Regions from separate parts of the Homo sapiens genome. Here region 1 is linked to region 2. Evidence: fine-mapped expression QTL. Tissue or cell type: lung. Region 2 holds a variant in brackets; the other region holds the start of a gene. All regions are shown on one strand. Distances are from middle to middle.

Region 1 (8,143 bases), 640 kb after region 2:
CTGACAGAAATTAAGCAGCAAGTAAGGAATTTCTCCGAATTTTTTTTTCATTTGTAAAGTGAAGGGATCAGACCATCTCTGAGATATCCTCCAGCTATTACATTCTCACATTAGCACGGCTTGTATTTTCAGCTGCCCTGATTCTCCTCCTTGAAACTTGGGGCAGGTTGTTCTGGCAAAAACAGAAAACACACATTAAAAAATACCTTTGATGACCAGCAGAGGGCAGGGTGAGTTGGGTGTGGAATTTAGAGGAGGGCTCCAGGGGCAGTTTCTAGAAGGTTTGTAGTCCTGGTCCAAACGGTGGCTCACGCCTGTAATCCCAGCACTTAGGGAGGTCGAGGTGGGTGGATCACGAGGTTAAGAGATCGAGACAATCCTGGCCAACATGGTGAAACCCCGTATCTACTAAAAATACAAAAATTAGCTGAGTGTGGTGGTGGGAGCCTATAATCCCAGCTACTTGGGAGGCTGAGGCAGCAGAATTGCTTGAACCCGGGAGGCGGAGGTTGCAGTGAGCCGAGATCACACCACTGCACTCCAGCCTGACGACAGGCTCAAAATAAAAAAAAAAAAAGAATATTTGTAGTCCTCTGGGTTCTGCACTTGGTCTGTGCACTTCCTGCCTGCCCGTTCTTTCACTAAGTCCAGAAATGCGGTAAGATAGGGAAGAGCTTCTGCCATAGACAGCACTGATGCTGTCGTCCATAGAAAACAACTTCCTTCCTTTCTGTCCCCACTCCTCCCCTCCCACAACCCCCAACACCCATATTCACATGTACACCCTTAATTTCCTTACTCATCTGGGTCAAGGTGAGAGAAGAGAGTTGAGAGCTCTTCCCACGTGCACTGTAGTCACTGCCTAGACCATAAGCTCTGTGAGACACACTGCTGTGTTCCCTGCTCTGTCTCTAGCACCTAGAACCATGCCGGGCACATAGAAGGCACTGATATATATTTGTCACTGACTTTGTTTCCATTCTAAGGGGCTCCACCCTGAGCAGACTGTAAGCACTATACGGGCAAGAGGATCCCCATGGTCACAAATCTTTGGATTTTCATCATTTGGTAAAATGAGACACACTGGCACCAAGTAGATATTTGGGGAAAGCTAAAACTGATCAAAGTGCAATTGAATATGCAGAACAAGATAAGAGTCAAAGATGGCTCAGACAAGAAAATATTCCAGAATTATTTTTAAAAATAGTATACAGCTCAGCATATACTCTTGAAGCTGACTGTGATCTGCAATCCTTTCATCATTAGTTTATTTTTTAATAATGAGAAGTAGCAGACTTCACTAAAAATCACACATCTTTGTTTAGTATTTTTATGGGAGTACACGATTGTCAGGCCCTCTGCCCCTGTTTCCATCAGTGTCCCCAGGAGCCCACACTATGCAGATCCTCTTTCTTCTCCATACATTATGCAAATACCCTAAACAGGCCCCATCTCAGAGCCTCCACTCTGTCTCCTGGAACTTTCAGCCTATCATCAGCAAGATCCCTCACAACCCGACCCCTCTGACTATTCCTGAAACTTCTTGCCTTAACTGCTCTGCCAGGAGGACCCTGCTTCTCACGGTTACTCTCAGATCACTGCCTTCCCCCCTGCTCCCTAAAAGCTTCCTGCGTTGATGTTCATGCCGTCAGACTGTAGAACAGTCTCAAAACAAAGCGACCTCTCTTGAACTCACATTTTCCTCCAGCTACCACTCGATCTGCTTCTCCCCCTGCCTTTTCTGCAATATTCACTCAAAAGAGTTTTCCGGACTTGCTGTTTCCAGTTCCTGTCCTGTTACTCTTACACCTGCTCTATTAGGCGTTCTTCCCCACAATGATATGTTAACAGCTCTTTTCAAGATCACCAGTGACCTCCACTTACATGACAGTTCTCCAGCCTCATCTTTATTGAGCTCAGCAGCACTGGGCACAGGTACACCCCACCCCTTCCTGAACATCTCCACACTGAGTTTCAGAGCACTCCCTCCGGGTTTCCGGGGACCTCCCTGGCCATCCTCTCAGGCCCCTTCTGTTGACCCTCATCTCCCTAACCTCAAAATGTTAGAGTGCCCAGGACTCTATCCAAGGACCCCTCTTTTCTAAGTCACATCTGTACACATTGACAGCTGATCACATAATTCTTAGGGGCCCGTGTAAAATGAAAAGGTGGGCCCCTTGTTCAAAAATTAAGACTTTCAAGACAGCAACACTGGGCAGAACATCCAAGCAAGTGCTGACTCTTGTAAGAGCCAGACTCTGAGCAGCTGCAGGGCATACACTCTTGGAGCCGGTCCTGCCGACGACTCTTGAATCTCTATGTCTGGCCTTGCACACTCCCCGGAGCCCCAGACTCATAAATCCAGCTCTCTACTAATCATCTCCTCTTGGATCTATGGTAGGCATTTCAGACCAAATTCTTCACACCCTCCCTTACCGCAAAAGAGAACCCTGGTCCTCCGCAGTTTCCCCATCTCAGCAAGGGGTGCATTCTTCCGGTGTCTCAGACCAAAACCCTTGGGGGCATCTTTGATTCTTTTCTTGTACTGAAGCCCCACATCCAAATCATAAGCAAATGCCTTTGGCCCCACCTGCAAAGGTACAGAGGGTGTCCCCAGGTCTCCTCAGGCTGCCTCCACCTTGGGAAATTCTCACACCTGTATGACTGCGCCCTCCCACTGTCTCTCTGCCACAGCTCTTCCCTGCTATTTAGTCTTGACCCTGCACCCCGTGACCCCTTCAGGCTGGGATTCTCCTCAAAATGAATGTGAAAGTGTCCTGACTTTACCCAAGTTTAACAAACATTGGCTTAAATTACCTGATAAGCTTGCTTCCCTCTCACGTTACTCAACTACAGAAATACAAAAGTCGCTTATTTTTATGTGCCTATTTTCTCAAAACAAATAAAAAAGCACGAAGACAAGTGACCCCAGCTCCAAACTGTACACCCTCTACCTTCCTCATGTCAAAGATCTACCTGCAAACTTGCCGCAGTCCTGAAACGGTAAGAAATCATTTTTGGGGCTCCTCTTTACGTCTGCATTAACTAATGGTCTAGGTAACCCTATCAAGTGTCATAGCCACATAACATCCAGCTCCACGACATCATAGTTTCTAAATGTGTTCTATAATCATAGAACGCGGGCCTCTAACAGTGTGAGTGGTCGGGTATGGTACATGCGTGTTTGGCTTTAGGTTTCGAGTTCCAACACCCAGGCGCCTGCAGGCAGGGTATGTGTACGCGTGCGTGTGTACGTGTGTGTGTACCTGTGTGTGTGTGTGCGCGCGCGTGTGCGTGTGTGTGTTCGTCTCCAGATGGTTGTATGCACGGATGGTTATGAGCCAGTACGTCGCCGCTGTGAGCGCGCGAGGACCCGGGGCTCCAAGTGGTGAGAATCACTCGAGGGACCCTTCGGATGCCTTTTTCCCCCTCTGCTTTTGAGCTCTGCAGCACAGCGGTGCCGGCCGCCGGCAGGGAAGGCTGCATCTTCTCTGCGCCGCCAAACCGTGCCCACCATCGCGGTGACTGCCGCCTAGGTCGCATCCCTGAGCCGCATCCGCGCGTAGGGGCGCACGGGCACGCGCACAGGGAGGCCGCACACACACACACACATCTGTACAGGGACGAGCCGGGGGTCTCTGACGCCCGCCGCTCACCTCGCCCCGGCCTGGAGCCTTTTGGCCCCGCAGGTGCAGCGACGCCCAGCCCCCGTGCGGCCAGCGCGCCGCGTCGGCGGATCCTGCAGCCCAGAGAGCCCAGGGAGCCCAGGGAGGGGAGCGGGGCGCGGGCGGGGCAGTGTCGCATAACCGCAGGCGCGCCCCGCGCCGCCCCCGCCCCGGGCCCACCCTCCCTCGCCGCGCCCCTCCCAGCTCACCCACGGACGAGCGGATCCTCGACCTCCGCGGCAGGGACATCTTAAGAGCTTTGTCCAGGCCTGCGCCGTTCAGCATCTCGCCCGTGTCGGGGGCTCGGCGGCCCCGGGCGAGAGACGGAGGCTACGCGCAGGGCTGGGCGCAGGGGCCGCCGCCCGAGGACCATGGGTGGGCCAGCGCCTCGCCGGGCTGCTAGCTGGCGGGGACCGCCGGCGCCTGTGCCGGGCCGCGCCCGAGGCTGCGCCGTCCGTGCCGCAGCGGCCAATGCGGCAGCATCCGCGAACGCCACCGCGGCGGGCCCCGCTGGCCCGGGCTGCGGCGTGGGGGCGGGGGACCGGCCCTGAGCGGAGCCCCGCGGGAGGAGGAGCGGACGGGAGGCTGGGAGGGATCCGCAATATTACGCAGGACCGGGGCTTTTAGGTGTCGGGGAAGGCGATGGGGAGGGCTTGGTGGGGTGGGAGATTGGGCCTGTACTTTCGGGGGCTCTTCCAGGAGAGGGGTGCACCTGGGGGACTCGGAGTCTCTGCCTGTCTGCTACCTATTTACCTGCCTGTCACTTGTCCTGTGCAAGTGGAGGCGCTGTGATTCCCCAGGACTCATCCAGTCCCTTTCTTTTCGCAGTTTCTGTTCTTCCGTGCCCAGCCTGGTGGGATCTGTGTAGGGACTTCGTGGAAGGGTTATTTCCAAGGTGTCTGATGTGTGGCTTGGCACTCAGAGAAGTCGGGGGTCTCCAGCCCCCCACTCTCCACAACCTGCCTGACATTCTAACTACGCATATTAAAGCTGCAGGTAGCCCTAGGGAACCTTAACAGCAACCTTCTCAACCCCCGCACGCACACACACACACACACACACCCATCGACACACACACACACACACACAGACCCATCGACACACACACACACACACCCATCGACACACACACACACACACCTTCTTTCATAAAACAAAACCATCGAGAGGTAAGATGACTTGTCCAAGGTCACTTGATCTATTTTTTGTTTTTTCTTATCGCGTAATGTTTAGACTGTGCTTGGTCTTTCTGGGCACAATCCCATGAAGATAAGAAGCTATCTTTATTGTGCCTGATGACATTCTGACCTCGGAGTAAAAACGGAACAAAACAAAAATAAAACTGTTCAGGTGAAAGTCTGACCTTGCTTTTACTGATGCGAGCATTACATTTCTTTTAACCTAAATTAACATTAGGGACTGACAAGGAGTAGTACAGAGTTCAGCAAAAAGAATCTGTGCTAGCAAAGACAGCAGTGCGGCCTGAGCTCCTCCTGCCTGGCCTCTGCATCTGATTTTATTTTCTTTTACTTTTTTTTTTTCTTTGACAGAGTTTTGCTCTTGTTGCCCAGGCTGGAGTGCAATGGCGCTATCTCGGCCCACTGCAACCTCCGTCGCCCGGGTTCAAGTGATTCTTGTGTCTCAGCCTCCCGAGTAGCTGGGATTACAGGCGCCCACCACCACGCCCAGCTAATTTTTGTATTTTTAGTAGAGACGGGGTTTCACTAAGTTGGCCAAGCTGGTCTCGAACTCCTGACCTCAGGCGATCCACCTGCCTCGGCCTCCCAAAGTGCTGGGATTACAAGCGTGAGCCACCACCCCCGGCCTCTGCTTCTAATTTTCTTAAGAACAAACATCCAGGCCGCGCGTGGTGGCTCACGCCTGTAATCCCAGCACTTTGGGAGGCAAAGGCGGTCAGATCATGAGGTCAGGAGATGGAGACCATCCTGGCTACCGCGGTGAAACCCCGTCTCTACTAAAAATACAAAAAAAAAATCGCCGGGTGTGGTGGCAGGTGCCTGTAGTCCCAGCTACTCGGGAGGCTGAGGCAGGAGAATCGCTTGAACCCAGGAGGTGGAGGTTGCAGTGAGCGGAAATCATGTCACTGCACTCCAGCCTGGGTGCCAGAGTAAGACTCCACCAAAAACAAAACAAGACAAAACAAAAAACAACATCCAAAGGGACAGGCAACTTACACTGAAAACTGCAGGCTGGCAAGAATCTACACTAAATGTAGCTTCAGGTAGGATTCTTTACCTGTCTCTTCTGGGCCCTCAAAAAATTTTTCTGATAAGAAATGAATCTTTATCAGGAAGATGAATCAAAATAAAATTTTCTAAATTGTTGAGCTAAGCTTCAGAGTGGGAGAGGTTTTCTCAGTGGATCTTCATTGCTGCTGAGGATAAATCTTAAAGCTGGGGCTAATCCTAGGACTGGATTTGTCAAAAACTTGTCACTATGCTTCAGTAAATCTTCTGTCTATGATAACACCTTGAGGACCTAACCAGAATTGAAAGGAACTTAAAAGGAAAATGTGGTTTTTTTCAATCCCCAAACTTCAAGATAAATAGAAAACATTTTGGGTTTTTTTGCTCTGACTTAGGTGGGAATAGAAAGAGTAGATAAAGGTTATTTTTAATTTTTAAGAAGCAGAGTATGTTATATATAGAATATTTGCCTTGATCACTGAAGAGTGACCAAATGTCCCACCCTGACTTTGTGCAGCCCCATCATGAAACAGAGTTGTTGCTGCTCTTTCTATGTTTATCTTCCAATAACCAAACTGCCCTGACAGCTTTGTAGGTGTGTGAAATATACCTCAGTTGGTGCACCTTGAAGATCACAGCATAGACTGCAAGGAGCAGTAGGTGAATATTTCACAGCAACTTGTGTTGTCTCTTTGATGTCTTGGTTAATTCCCCTGATCTGACTGCCTCTTGGAATGTTGGGGAGATCAGTAGGTTGGCATTGGCCAGAGTCAGACCTAAATCCCATCTCTGAGGTCTTCAAGGGAAATATATGCACAAAGGACAAAAGCTAGCAAATGGACAGTATTTATTATTATGCTTAGAATCCAGTGCCGATGTGGATCACCCTGTGACCCAGGCTTGGCTTGGAGACATCCTTTCACCCTTGCCAGAGGCAGCCTAGGTTAGAACCAAAGGAGATAAAGAAGCCTGTGAGGAGAAACAGCAAACGCAAAAGGCACCGCAACCAGGACAGTCAGGGAAATGTGCTCTGTCTGTGAAAGCAAGAACTCCTCAACAAAGAGAGTTTGCCTCAATTCTTAGAGCCACGACCCTACGCGTTCACAAGACAGGTAGAAAGGCAGCCTGCAGCCCCCAGTAGGAGCCACACCAAGTCCCTAGCACTGTGGGTCGATGAGTGTCATTGAACTTAACTAAGCCAGAGCAGCCCTTTCCTCCTGGAGGAGGAAGTGAAGGGAAAGGGAGAATTCTTTTTCTTTCCCTGAAAGGCAGCTGTCGTCATCCTCTCATTATTCTGTGTGCCCCTCTCCTTATGCAATAAGTTGAGCCAAGACAGACTGATCTCCCAGGAGAGGATCCGACCCTCCAGTGCTGTGACGGCACAGAGGCTGCCTCTCCCTTTCCCGGTGATTCCCAAGGAAGGAGAGGCCAGATCGCTTCTCTTGGCAGCCCACTCCAGTGTTCAAGAACTAGTGTTTTGAAGCAGTTTGTCCTCTGAACATCTTAAATTTCTACTATTTTAACTTAAGCCTATCCTTCCTTTTTAGTCTTCATGGTCCTAGAAAACAGTCAGTTGGCATCCTTCTCAAGAAGTTCTTTTATACAAACGAAGACTTCAAGCCATCTCTTAAGCCCTTCTTTTCCTCAAACTAAAAAAGCCCCATTTCCTTTTTAAAATGCTTATGTGTGCGTCTTTACCTTTTATATCTGTATACATATATGTATATATGTGTAAACATTTTATCACTTTTTTATTTGAGACAGAGTCTCACCCTTTTGCCCAGGATGGAGTATACTGGTGTGAACATGGCTAACTGAAGCCTCAACCTCCTAGGCTCAAGCAATTCTCCTCCATTAGCCTCCCAAATAGCTGGGACCACAGGCACGTGCCACCACACCCAGCTACTTTTTGTATTTTTTGTAGAGACAGGATTTCACCATGTTGCCCAGGCTGGTCTCAAATTCCTGAACTCAAACCATCCTCCTGCCTCACCTTCCCCAAGTGCTGGGATTACAGACATGAGCCACCGCATCTGTCTACATAAACACTTTAAAAAGAAAATGGCATATAAGTAGCATGTTAAAAATTATACGTAAGCATGTACCAATCATCCTTGTACCTGTTCTCCTGTTTAGGAAACAAAGCAGTATAGGCCTGTTGAAAGCCATTTGTGTACTCACCCCTAATCCCTTTCCTTTCCCTCTGTCCGCAGACCAGTATCTTCATAGGATCTCTTTCCTCTCTCTTGATTATTATCTAAAAACTAACAA
Region 2 (8,143 bases):
TGCCCAGCTTTGGAGGAGCTGCCCCAGCCTCCTGCCTCCCTCTGGCACCGTGTGGCACACACACTCTCATCCCCAATCCTGTACAAGCTGCCCTTTATGAAGCATTTTTACTGCAGTCCAAGAGGAGACGTCTTTCCTTGGGATGTTTCAAAGCAAAATCTAGCAAATAACACTGCTTCGTCTGCTCCAGTAACAAGGCTATGTACTGTGGTCAACTTGGACAATTTCCATTCTCCAGTTCTTTAACAAGGAACGTTTCTAGTCCACATCTGAAGTCATCCTGAGGGGGCCTGGCAGAACAGCAGCTGCAATGGCAGGGTCGTCACTGGCTCCACAGCTGCTGCACCACTCCCGGGGCTGCTCCTCAGTCCTACAGAAGTGGTTCTGAGTAAAGAACAGTCACCCCAAAGAATGGGACATACTCTTTTATAAACTCTTCCGGTGGGAAGCTGAGGACTACTGAGCTCTCCACCCTGAAGATGTCTTTCTCCACTCGCTTGTTTTCATCTTAGATTCTGGTGGCCCCAAGTGGCTGCAGCATGGGGTCAGGGTGGTGGCCAGGAAACAAAGGGTGGTTCTAGTCCTTGCTTGCTGCTACTTGTCCATGTGACTTTGGGATCTTTAAGCTCCCTGGGTCTTGATGTACTTTTCTGTAAATTAAATGGCCTGGACCAGGCAAGGCCCAAGTTCTCTCAACCTCCAGTCCTCTCTATGGGCTCCAGGACATGTTCATGGCCCGTCACACCCAGGCTGCAGGATTCTCTCCCTCTGTCAGTGCTAGTTCACACTGCACCAACACGGAGGCCTCTGCATCCACGTCAGAAAAGAAAGGGTCGGTGTCAACAGTCCATCCAAAAAGAATAATTAACTACCTATTATACCTCTTTTGGCCTGCTTTTTTCTCCTGGTTGGGGGGAACTCATGGAGACATAAAAATAAATTAGGGAGTGTCCTTTCGGGAAAGGTATCTTAGCCTTTGGAATAGTCTACTCCCTGTTCAAATGGAAGGTGCAAAAGCCTTTTCTTTTATTTATCTTGTTTTCCATAACATGCCTGTGTCTACTGGAAACCCAACTCCGGGGGTTTCTTCAGCTCATAACTCTGTCACTTCTTCTGTGTGCATTAGTGCCATGGCCACAAGGGCCTCCCATGGGATTGCAGCGGGATGATTTGGCCCCTCTGGGATGGGAAGGGTTTCGAGGTTTCCCTTTGAAGAGACAGGCAGAGAAGAGTTGCCCCTCCTGTTGTAAACCTCCCAGGGTAAGTAGAGCAACGTGAGGTCTGTGCTAAATGTCTCCCACCATCCTCCCTAGTTCCCATTGGCTGCACCTACCACCACATTTCCAGCGTGTTGTACGCTAAGACTTTCTTAACCTTAACCGAGAATGAAAGTGGACTCTACAATTCAAGAGTGAAAGGAGAATGGCCTGATAGGTTTATCTTGGGAGAGGGAGTCCTCCCATGTTCAGATAAAATTTCAGATTAAACATTTTCCTCTTAGAAACCAGGCCTGGCGGGAGTTAGAGCTGTCATGGGAGGAGTTTTACTGGAAAACCAGACACCATCACCCCTCAACCAGTCCTGCCTGCCCAGCCTCTGTCCCACCGGATGAAGATACAGACCTGCTCCCCAGCTCTGCCTAATGAACCTTTAACTGTCATTTGCATCCAAACGGGGAGCTCGGAGGAAGCCTCCAGCTCTTTGCACTCCCTACTTTCACTCATGTTTCAGGAAGTCCTAACAGCCAGAAAAGTCCTGATGGGGGCCTGGAGGGAGCTCTCATGGACCCAACTAACTGAACTTTCCCTGGCTGGCTTCCTAAAGCATCTGCTTTCTTAAACAGCCACAGCCAGAATGGAGAACAGAATCGTGTAGGTGAAAGGAGGTGGGAGGAAAGACGGATTTCTTAGTTGTTTTGTCTTCTCCGGGTAGAACATTTGGTGAAATCCATAAAATTATGTCTTTTTTTTTCATTATTTTGGAATAAAACTCCCCTTAAGTAGCATTCCTTTGAATCTGTGCTCTGATAGCATCTTAATGAAAATAGCAGTTTCCTGTCTGGAAAGATTCCTAATAGCCATAGAAATGAGAAGACCATGGGGACAAAGAGGAAATCAGACTGTGTAGGAAATGCTGATTACAAATATTGTATGTTGGTGGCTCACAGGAACTAAAATACTACCAAGATTAGAGTTTTTCCTGCTAGTTTCCTGGACAGACCCAGGCGGAACATCAAAGGCTGAGACCTGCTATATGCCCATCCTGCACCCCAGGACCAGCTCTGACCACCCGACGATCTTCTCTGGCTGTTAGTGACAGAAACGTCCTAAGTTATCCATCAGGTTCTGGTACTAGTCACTGAATGTTTAAAAAATGTGGTGTGATTTCAGAAGCCTTCTTATTTCTTATATTTATTCAGTAGATTTTTTTTTGGCCTTCAAAATATTGACTTAAGAAAAGCATTTAGTAGTTGTCTTTAAGACATTTATGACTCTCCCATAAAAATTCTCATTCGGTCTTTGATCACAACATATATATCGTGTATATTCTGTCTATGGTTATTTTGAAACATTCATCAGAGAGGCAACACGGCTCAACAGAACAGACCCTGTAGAGTTCTGGGAACCTGTATGTGTTTTCTCTGTGTCTGGCATACAGAAGGTGCTTTACACATGCTGTCATGAAGACTCACAGGACTGTGTAAGATGTATATCATTAAAATTCTTTTTTCTCCACAGGAGAAAATAAAAATTTAGAGAAATTAAGTTTCCCAAAATTATTCAGCTAATGGCAGAATAATAATACCCAACATTTATTGGACCCTATATTGCCTATATAGACACTTTATCTTTATGATCTCATTTAATCCTCCTAATTGAAACCAACCCAATAGTCCCATAGACAGTTTTGTTTTTGTTTTTTTGTTTTTTTAACATAGAAATGACCCTTCTGGTCTTAAAGCTTGACATTTGTATTTGTTTTATCTGAGTTCCTTCCTTAGGTAGGGACCCACAGGCCTCTCGAAAAGTAGCAAAGATCTGAAACTCACCCAATGATCTCATCCAGACAACGAGATGCTAAGCCCCTCATTCATCTTGATTGCTTCCTTACCCCTACTGATTCCTGTTTTCTTACACATTGTTAACATTTCTTCCCTGCTATATAAACCCCTAATTTTAGTCAGTCAAGGATATGGATTTAAGACTAATCTGCCACCTCCTTGGCTATAGCACCAGATAAAGCCTTCTTCCTTGGCTATAATTGTTGTTTCAGTGATTGGCTTTCTGTGCAGCTGTGGGTGGCAGGACCTACACTGAACCTCTGGCATCCAGTAAGTTCTCATATTACCCAACTTTACAGATGCAGAAGCAGACATTAAGTAACATGCCCAAGGTCACGAAAAAGCAGGGGAGCAGGGACAGGAACCCAGGCAGCCCATCTCCAGAGGGCTGCCCTACAGTTAGCACTCCTGTCCCATCAAACTTCTTGACTTACCTCTCTTTTGGGCCAGAGTCTGAGGCTGCAATCCAGACCTCATGGCATGCCACTGAGCAATGCTGGGCCACCCACTTTCTGACCTGAGCCTCTGCTTTGTGTCCTTGGGGTGGCATTACCCACCTCCCAGGGCAGTGGAGCATTAAAGGACAGAAGCATGTCAGTCCCCTTCTTCCCATACGATATTCCACATGGGAAAGTGAGGACAGGGGGTAGATTACTGAAAAGCAATGATACTCTGTCTCCCTCCTTCTCTCTCCATTGAGAAAGTCTGCAAATACCTGTTGACAGGCAGAGCTCAACAGAACACAGATCCTTCACTGCCTGTACTGTGTGAACAATGATTCTTCACGTTCATAAATCTGTCTCTTTCTTTCTTTCTTTTTTTTTTTTTTTGAGACCAAGTTTCGCTCTTGTTGCCCAGGCTGGAGTGCAATGGCATGACCTCGGCTCGCTGCAACCTCCGCTTCCTAGGTTCAAGTGATTCTCCTGCCTCAGCCTCCCAAGTAGCTGGGATTACAGGCATGTGCCGTCACGCCCAGCTAATTTTGTATTTTTAGTAGAGACGAGGTTTCACCATGTCGGTCAGGCTGGTCTCCAACCCCTGACCTCAAGTGATCCACTCACCTCAGCCTCCGAAAGTTCTAGGATTACAGGCGTGAGCCACCGCGTCCGGCCCAACTCATCTCTTTCTACCAGTCGTTTCCCTCTAAACTCCTCCGGAAGGGAAAGGGAGGCAGGGAGTAAGTATGGGAGGAAAAGCTGGCGTGTGCACGTGATGGGGGTGGAGAGGGGGCTGGGGAAGGCCGCAGGACACAGAGAGGCAGGGCTGGGTTGGCCTTGGCCCTGGGGAAGGTGGCCTGGATCTGCCTCAGCTGGGATCTGAT[G/T]ACTGGATTGCTAAAAACAAGCCCATGAGCTCCCCCTGAGCTCCAAAGTCGGGGGCAGTGGAGAGGGGATGTTTCACAGCCTCCCACTCTCCTCTGGAATCTGGAGGTGGGGGCGGGGGTGGCAGGGGGACGCCAGGCTTAGACGTGGGGCAGCCTTCCTGGGAGAAGCATGATGTTTTTCCCCAATGATGGTCATTGTTTCAATCAATATGGCAACACTACACAAAACAGTTCATATTGCTATCTTTAGGGGCAACAGTTTAAAAGTCATACTGCTTCAACCTTAAAAAACTCCTCTTGGGAGGCTGACGGAAGGATCATAACCACACCAGGATTTTAAGTTTACGGATTTTGTGGTCCCAGGGAATTGCCTACACTCAAGCTGCACGTTCCTGGGGCCAAATACACATTTTGCAGTTCCACTTCCAAACGCACGCCCCGCCCCCACCCCCCGTCAGCACTCACCCGGCCCCCCATCAGCGCCCGCTCCCCCAACTCCTCATCAACCCCCGCCCCGCACCGACACCCACTCCTCCATCAGCCCCCGCCCGCGGTACTCACGCGGGACGCCCTGCTGCAGGGAGCTGCCCCGGAACAGCGTCGGGGGCGTCTTCCGGCCCAGCCTCTTGATCAGGCGGTCGCGCTCGTTCAGCCTGCGGATAAAGCAAGCGCGTCAGTCTCTTGTCACCTGAACACTCGGGTTGCACAAGGAGACAGACAGAAGGGGGTGGGATGAGGTGGGGGATCACCTCCCCACGTCGGGTAAGGCGTGGTGCTTCACCAGCGGCCCGTGATTTCCAGCAGATGCCATCTGGGCGCCTCAATGCTGGCTCCCTGTTGTGGAAAACGCCGTTTCCAGTCCCTCCCTTAGCCAGCGCTTCCTGCTCGCTGAAGTGTGCATGTGCCCGGTCCATACCCGCGGGACCGTGGGCTTTTCAGGACACTTCTCCAAGGAGAGGCCTGTTTCCGGGTAAACATCTCCGCGCCTCACTCCTGCCTGCAGCCCCCTGCCTGCACGGGGTGAGAGCCCCGCGGAGGCCTCAGGACCCCAGCCACAGCCCAGCTTCGTTCTGCAGAACTTGATTATTTTGAACCCCAATGAACATCAAGGCGAGTTTTCTTCTAAAACAGACGGCTAAGGAGCAGTCCCTGCCTTTCCTGAACCTATTCCCTTCAAGGTTGCCACTGCTGTGAAGACATGTGGAACTGTTCTGGAGCTTGGCTATTTCTATACTATTTTATTTTTTTAAAAAGATGGGGTCTCACTGTCGTCCAGACTGGAGTGCAGTGGCACAATCATAGCTCACTGCAGCCTCGAACTCCTGGGCTCAAGCAACTCTCCCACCTCAGCCTCCTGAGTAGCTGGGACCCCAGGTGTGCATCACCACACCTGGCTAATTTTAAACATTTTTTGCAGAGACAGGGCCTTGCTTTGCTGCCCAAGCTGGTCTCAAACTCCTGGCTTCAAGTGATCCTCCTGCCTCGGCCTCCCAAAGTGCTAGGATTACAGGTGTGAGCCACCATGCCCAGTCTGTTTATTTCTATAAGCCCAAAGGGACTGCTTGAAAACTGCCCAGGCAGGTCAAAGTGCTTTGATTTTTACTATCAGGCTCTCATTTCGCTTGTCATTACAGGAGTTTGCCAGTGACCTAGAGGCATAATAGATTATGGGCTGAATGGTGTCCCCTCTAAATTCACATGTTGAAGTCTTTACCCCTAGTACCTCAGAATGGGACTGTATTTGGAAACAGGGCCTTTAAAGTGGTAATTAAGGTGAAATGAGGTCATCAGGGTGGGCCCTAATCCAGCATGGCTGCTGTCCTAATAAGAAGAGGAGATGAGGACACAGGCATACACGGAGGGAAGACCACAGAGCACACAGCCACCTGTAAGCCAAGGAGAGTGCTCGCATGAGAAACCAATCTGTAAGTAGCTCGAGTATGGACTTCCAGCCTCCAGACTGTGACAAACTCAATTTCTGCTGTTTAAGCCACACAGCCTATGGCACTTTATTGCGGCAGCCCAGGCAGACAAATACAGACCCCCCTTACGTTTGTGGGAACGTGAGGGGATACGGAGTTGTAGAAGAAGCTGCAGGTGCTTGAATCCCATGTACCCTGCCCCCGATCGATCAGTGAGCCTGGAGCCTGAGGAGGCCCCTCCCATGACTGCAGACCCACCTAGCTCCCTCAGGGCCATCGAAAGAGGAGTGGGGCCCTGGCTCTTCTTCACAGTTCTTTGAGCTGAAGTTCATTTTGAATTTCCAGGAGAGGGCATTTCTGAGTGCCTTGGTTGAAATAACAATGTTTAATTCATTCCCAATTAAGGGTGAGCCTCAGCTAGCTAAGCTTGGCAAAACGTCTCATGGCTGAGGAAGAAAAATACTTTCTCCATCCTTTCACACTGGTCCTCCCTCCCGTCTCCTCTTTCTTCCATGGGCCAAATTAATCTCACCGGGTCTGGCTGAGCAATTGCCCTGGAAGGCATGGTTGTGCAAACACAGGAGGAGTGAGCCCGTGGCACCTGTCCCTCTGTGTAGCTGCCATCACCGACTGTCCACAGCTCCCTGTGCTGCCTGGTTTCAGAATGTGGCAGGTATAAAGAAGGGCCTGTCCTCCCTGTCCAACACGTGCCCAGCACTGGCCATGACTCCTGCACAAAATAAAGGGCACTGTGTGCAGAGGGGGCCCCTCACCCTGCCTGGCCCCAGGGTAGCCTCACCAGCCAGGCCCCACATGGGGACATAATGGGCAACTGACACATTATTTTCTCAGAAGCTGGAGACCATGCAGGACTAGGCTCTGCCCCCATGCCCCTGGACCACAGGGACATGCCTCCTGAACCACCCTGGCCATCCCAGAAGCTCCTCCTCATGATGGGGCTTATGAGAATGTCACAGATCCTCAGAAATGGGAGGGATCATTGAAATTATACATGTTGGCCTCTCACCAGGCAGGTGAGAAAACAGACTCAGCTGTGTCAAATAACTTGACAAAGGTCAGATGGGGCTTTGCTGGCAGGGCTCCTGTGCTGGCAGACGCCGCCTAGATGCCGCCTAGAGTGGTGAATGCTTTTCTCTGTCTTCTTTTTTTATAATTAATTTTTTTCTTTTTGTTTTTGAGACAGAGTCTTGCTTGTTGCCCAGGCTGGAGTGCAGTGGCGCAATCTCGGCTCACTGCAGCCTCTGCCTACTAGGTTCAAGCGATTCTCCTGCCTCAGCCTCCTGAGTAGCTGGGATTACAGGCACTTGCCACCAGGCCTGGCTAATTTTTGTATTTTTAGTAGCGATGGGGTTTTGCCATGTTGGCCAGACTGGTCTTGAACTCCTGACCTCAGGTGATCCGCCCACTTCAGCCTCCGAAAGTGCTGGCATTACAGGCATGAGCCACTGTGCTCAGCCTATAATGAGATATTATTTAAAAATGTGACTTCTTGCTTCAGAGGGACCCACTCTGTGCCGCAGCCCTTCCTCCACACACTGTGAGGGGTCCACAGCCAAGGAGGTACACCCTCCCATGGCCCAGGCCTGCCATCCACCACCTCAGTTATTTGGGACCCTAGAAGTCCCTGCTCAATGACCACCCAGGCCTCCATCCAAGGCTAACTTGACTCCATCCTGAGCTCCATCCCCCTAAAAGTAGACCATATAGCCAATGTGCACACCCCAGGTCTGTGGGGGTGGCCAAGGGGTGCTTTTTGCATGGGGATGTGAACAGAACCTGGATGTGTGGGCTGGGATGTTCACCACACCACACGTGCGC

Which allele goes with the higher level. Positions count from the first base shown, and alleles are read on the strand shown. Sizes are in standard deviations (SD) of each study's normalised expression.
With allele G in place of T in region 2, the expression in lung of the gene that starts at base 4,189 in region 1 is lower (moderate effect, 0.51 SD a copy in GTEx).

The links. PIP is the estimated chance that this variant, and not a neighbour inherited with it, causes the effect.
Region 1: ATP8A2 starts here. The variant in region 2 is fine-mapped to the expression of ATP8A2 in lung (GTEx, PIP above 0.99).

Annotation. Positions count from the first base shown.
Region 1 is chr13:25,368,020-25,376,162 of GRCh38, reverse strand. ATP8A2 (ATPase phospholipid transporting 8A2) reads right to left here and starts at 4,189. Exons shown (of 37, transcript NM_016529.6): 1 at 3,875-4,189. The coding sequence starts at 3,950.
Region 2 is chr13:26,009,423-26,017,565 of GRCh38, reverse strand. ATP8A2 (ATPase phospholipid transporting 8A2) reads right to left here. Exons shown (of 37, transcript NM_016529.6): 36 at 4,944-5,035. Among named protein-coding and RNA genes, the nearest start is that of SHISA2, 39 kb to the left of the region's middle. RefSeq lists enhancers at 4,705-5,205, 5,206-5,706. The variant G/T (reference allele first, on the strand shown) is at 4,383.